Regions from separate parts of the Homo sapiens genome. Here region 2 is linked to region 1. The links come from fine-mapping of genetic effects on gene expression. A gene starts in region 1. The other region holds a variant in brackets. All regions are shown on one strand. Distances are between the middles of the regions.

Region 1 (2,953 bases):
ATCTTATTTATTTTTTTGAGACGGAGTCTCGCTCTGTCGCCCAGGCTGGAGTGCAGTGGCACGATCTGGGTTCACTGCAAGCTCCGCCTCCCGGGTTCACGCCATTCTCCTGCCTCGGCCTCCCCAGTAGCTGGGACTACAGGCGCCCGCCCGGACGCCCGGCTAATTTTTTGTATTTTTAGTAGAGACGGGGTTTCACCGTGTTAGCCAGGATGGTCTCGATCTCCTGACCTCGTGATCCTCCCGCCTCGGCCTCCGAAAGTGCTGAGATTACAGGCGTGAGCCACCACGCCCGGCAAGGAATACGTTTTAATAAAGTAAAAGTTACTGTTAATAATTAGGCACGTAACTCCTGGACCCTGAAACAATTACGCTGTCTTCTGTAAAACAGGAAAATATCAGGCATCACAGGAGAAGTATGATCCCATTTCTATTTTTTTAAATGTCTGTGAACGTGTGTAATCACAGAAAAACTCTGGAAGGTTGTCAGAAAAACGTTAACATACCCCTGGGGGTATGAAAAAAGGCGTTTTTCCTCCCCCTTCTCCCCCCCAGCGACCGATAGTTCTTTTGTCTTTTTACAATGAGCATGCATGCAACAGGAATGTTAAAAATCGATTTCTTTTTCTAAACCGACAATGTATACAATTATTAAAGGGGGAAAAACACTTCTGAAATGCAAAACATGGAATCACTCTTGCAGAGATACCAGAGATCTCTGAAAGCTGGAAGCGTGTCTCTTCTCTGAACTCCTAGTGCCTAACAAGCAGTAGGCAGCCCTCATTACTGCCTCTTGGCAAAAAGGGCAGAACAAACAGCTTTTGGTAGGTCTCGATCAAAATGGTAACAAATCACAGTTTTAATAAAATGGCAAATATTCTAACTGCCAACTCTTGGATGTTTGCATTATAAAATGAAGCAATACAAAGATAAAGGCAATTTTCTGTCTTCATTAAAAAAAAAAAAAAGCAACCTTAATACCCAGTGGCAACCCTAAGTTATGAATAAAGCAGCAGCACAGAAAATGCTGCTTGGGTTCCCTTTCCCAAGCTGTCCAGCCTCGGCGGCTCCGTTCTTGAGCTCCAAGAGTCTGGGCACAAAAAGCCGCGTGGCCCTGGATCCTGCAAATTGGGAAACGGGGGGATCCTGCAGGCCAATGGCCTTACGGGAGCCAATGTGACGGGATCAGGGGCAGACCCATTTAGGTTGCCGTAACCGGCCAATTCAGTACGCAATAGGGAAAATCAATTAGGATCTGCAGAGGGTTCCCGGATACACCTTGCGAAGAATGCCGCACTCTCCGCCACTCATTCCCCACTCACCGGCACCCGCTAAACCTTCAGCCTGAAATTTTCCTCCGAAGGGAAGCAGAGCAGAGGAAGAACTACCAAGTGCTACACTCAAAGCCTGCCGTCGCAGTGAGCGCGACCTCCAAACTGAGGCATTTTTGTTCCGGCGAAATCCCTCCCACTCAGGAAAGTCCCTAGAAAGAGAGCGCAGGCGCCTGGGTATCACATGACCACTTCCCGGAAGCGCAGCAGACCCGCTCAACTTCATCCTGGGTTGAGGCGGAGGAGAACTTCCAGAATTATGGCGAAGTCCGGGCTGAGGCAGGACCCGCAGAGCACAGCTGCAGCCACTGTGCTAAAGCGGGCAGTAGAACTAGATTCGGAGTCGCGGTATCCGCAGGCTCTGGTGTGTTACCAAGAGGGGATTGATCTGCTCCTGCAGGTTCTGAAAGGTGAGCAATGAGCCAAGGCGGGGAGGACCTGAGGAAAAGGAGCTGGTTCCTGCTGTGTCTGGGGTGAAGTGAAAGAGTTAAAAATGATTTTTCCACACCACGAAGAAGCAGTTAAATACAGAAGGTGGGATATTCTATAGGACAACTGGGCCGCTTTCTTTTAGATCTTTAATAGATTGATGTTACCTAGAAAAGGTGGGGAGGCTACTAGTCTAGATTTTAAAAGACTTAAGAGATATAAGATATAACGCAATGTAATATATAAGCTTTGATAGGACCTGGGTTTGTACGAACTTTAAAAGACATTTTTGGATCTATTAGAAAAGTTTGAATATAGATTGGGGGGCATTAAAATTATTTTCTTAGGCAATATGATTTTTTTTCCAAAACTTTCCTTAATTTTTAGAGATGCAGACCAAAGTGTTTTAGAAAGAGATGCTATGATGTCTTTAGTTAATTTTCCTTAAGCAAAAATTTCTTAAAAATCGAAGCTCTATTTGAGCAAAAATGCTAATTTTAAAAATTTCGGTGATGGGTAATAAGGGTGTTTATTATACGATTATTTTTAATTTTCTGTTTAAACATTTGCATTTAAAGCAAGCCAAAGTAAAATTATGTAGCGGTAGAAGAAGAAAAGTTTTTCTTAAACGGATGAGGTTCGGTGTGAGAAATGCGCAGGGTTGTGGAGGAGACAAGTGAGACTTTTCGTATTATTCAATGTTGAGAAATACCCAAATATTCCTTAACACCCAGCACAACCCTGGCTCACAGTAGACACTCAATATTTATGTATTAAATTGATAAGATCAGCTCCTGCTCCCCAACCCCCGACACTCCCGGTCTGGACTAAGCTCCCTCTGTTCTTTCTAGTTTAAGCTTCTTATAATTAAAGTGTTACAGAAGCTTTGGGGCAGCAGAGGGGAGCCCTTTATGGTTTGGTGCTTTGGTCAGAACTACAAACTCTACCGGCCGGGCGCGGTGGCTCACTCCTGTAATCCCAGCACTTTTTTGGGAGGCCGAGGCAGGTGGATCATGAGGTCAAGAGATCGAGACCATCCTGGCCAACATGGTGAAACCCCGTCTCTACTGAAAATACAAAAATTAGCCGGGCATGGTGGCACGCACCTGTAGTCCCAGCCACTTGGGAGGCTGAGGCAGGAGAATTGCTTGAATCCGGGAGGCGGAGGTTGCAGTGAGCCGAGATCGCGCCAC
Region 2 (2,500 bases), 620 kb before region 1:
AGTGCTTCTTTTATAATCTCTGTTCTACCATTAGAGATTTAGATCTCTTTAATTTCTCTCTGCAGTGTTTTATAGTTTTTAATATACAGGACTTGAACATCTTTTGTCAGATTTATTCCTAAGTATGTTTTATTTTTGATACTAGTATACATGGCATTTATCTTTAAATTTCAGGTTATATTTACTAGTTGCTGGCATATAGATATGTAATTTATATTTGTTTACTGATCTTGTATCCTGCAACTTTGTGAAACTAACTTATTAATTTTAGTAGCTTTTTCTGTAGATTTCATTACATTTTCTACCTAGACCATGGTGTCATAGTGTTGTTCAAGGCTACATTAGTCAGAAAAGTCTGACTAATTTTCTTCCTATGTATTCTATCAATTACTAGGGCAGGATACTGAAATCTCTGACTATAATTAAGGGACTGTCTATTTCTCCTTGAAGTTGTATTCACTTTTGCTTCGTGTATTTTGAAGCTCTGCTGTTAGGCACATAAGCATTTAGATTTTTACGTCATATTGATTGGTCCGTTAGACAATGTGATATAAACTTCTTTATCCCTGGCTGCGTTAAGATCTACCTTAATATTAATATAGCCAATTCAGCTTTCTTTTGATTAATGTTAGCATGTAATATATATTTCTATCATTTTATTTTAATCTATTTGGTTTTTCTTATACTTACAGTATATTTCTTATAAATAGCATATAATTGGGTCTTGATCTTTTAATGCAGTCTGCTCATTTCTGTCTTTTAACTGGGATTTTATAGTGTTTACATATATTATTTATTATTTATCTGATTGGATAAATAAAAACAGGATGGAAAATAGACAATCCTAACCGTATCAATAATTACATTCAATGTAATTCAATGCAGTTAGCATTGAATGCAATTATTTAATGTAATTGAATAATTATTGCCCTTTCCTCTTGTCCTGTCTTCTTTTGCATTGAGTTATTTTTTTGTTTTCATTTAATCTCATTTGTTGTCTTATTAGCTATTACTCTTTGCTTTGTTATTTTAGTGGTTGCTTTAGGAATTATAGTAGACATCTTTAGCTTACTGTCAAGTAATATTTTACCACTTCATGTTCAGTGTAAGAACCTTGCAATTCTTCATTACTCCTTCCCCAGCCACCTTTTTCCTATTGTTGTCAAACATTTTACTTGTATATGTTATCAACTCCAAAAATATAATTTTTTTCTTAACTAATCAATTATATTTTAAACATATTCAAATTATAAAATATGTTTAATAGACTTACCATTTTTCAGTTCTCTTTATTGCTTTGGGTATATTTATATTTCCGTCT[G/A]TTAGCACTTTCCTTCTGCCTCAAGGGCTTCCTTTAACATTTTCCATAGTGCGGATCTGCTGGTTATGAACTTTTCCAGCTGTTGCATATCTGAAAATGTCTGTATTTTACCTTAGTTTTTGACAAATATTTTTGTCATATATATATTTTGGAGTTATTTATTTTCTTTCCATGTTTTGGAGATGTTGTTCCACTGTCTTCTTACTTGCATTGTTTCCAACAGTAAATCTGTTGTAATCCTAATCTCTGTTTCGTCTTTCTCTGGCTGCTTTTAAATGTTTCTCTTTTACCACTGGTTTTGAGCAATTTGATTATACTTTGTCCTTTTGTAGCTTTCTTCATGTTTACTGTACCTATCATAACTGAGTCTCTTACATCTGTAGATTTATGTTTTTTATCAAATGTTACAGTTTTGTTCCTTCATTATTTATTTAAATATATTTTCTACCCTCCCCTTTCTCCTGTAGGGACTCCAATTTTATGTACATTAGATCACACATGAAGTCATTCTGCAGTTTACTTATGCTCTTTTTTCTCTCTGTATTTCATTTTGTGTAGTTTCTGTTGTTATGTCTTCAAGCTCACTAATGTTTTCTTTTACAATCTCTATTCTACCATTAATTGCATTCAATGTATATTTGCATTTCATATAGTTTTCATCTCTAGATGAAAACTCAGTTTGGGTCTTTGGTATATCTTCTATGTCTCTACTTAACTTTTTGGACATACATATTACAAATAGTAACTGTTTAATATCTTTGTCCAATAAGTCTGACACCTGTGGCCTTTCTGGGTTGTCTTATTTTTTTCTCACTATGGGTTGCACTTTCTTGCTTCTTTGCACGTATGGTGATCTGTCTATCTGGTAATCTTTGGTTGGACCCAGACAGAGTTTTGCTTTTTTGTGTTTCTACAGATCTCCCTGTGCTTTGTTCTGGGATGTAGTTAAGTTACTTGGAAATAGTGTGATTGTTTTGGGTTTTGTCTCCACAGTTTGTCAGGTGAGAAAGAGCATCATTTAGTCTATGGCTAATTATTGCCTAGTTCTGAGGCAAGATTCTTTTGAGTGCTCTATCCAATGCCCTGTTAATTATAAGGTTTTACAGTCTGGCTGGTGAGCACAATTTCTGTTCCTGGCCTTGTAAGCACCTGGTATTTTTTTCTGTAATCCTTTCAGAT

The links. PIP is the estimated chance that this variant, and not a neighbour inherited with it, causes the effect. A credible set is the group of variants that fine-mapping cannot tell apart.
Region 2: its variant is the best candidate, but not a certain one, in a credible set for the expression of MITD1 in whole blood (TOPMed, PIP 0.66).

The regions. Positions count from the first base shown.
Region 1 is chr2:99,179,619-99,182,571 of GRCh38, reverse strand. MITD1 (microtubule interacting and trafficking domain containing 1) reads left to right here and starts at 1,514. Exons shown (of 7, transcript NM_138798.3): 1 at 1,514-1,741. The coding sequence starts at 1,591. MRPL30 (mitochondrial ribosomal protein L30) reads right to left here and starts at 1,388. Exons shown (of 6, transcript NM_145212.4): 1 at 1,323-1,388. RefSeq lists a silencer at 1,007-1,179 and enhancers at 1,397-1,446, 1,467-1,696, 1,707-1,846.
Region 2 is chr2:99,796,763-99,799,262 of GRCh38, reverse strand. All of the region lies in intron 8 of AFF3 (ALF transcription elongation factor 3), which reads left to right. Among named protein-coding and RNA genes, the nearest start is that of REV1, 310 kb to the right of the region's middle. The variant G/A (reference allele first, on the strand shown) is at 1,322.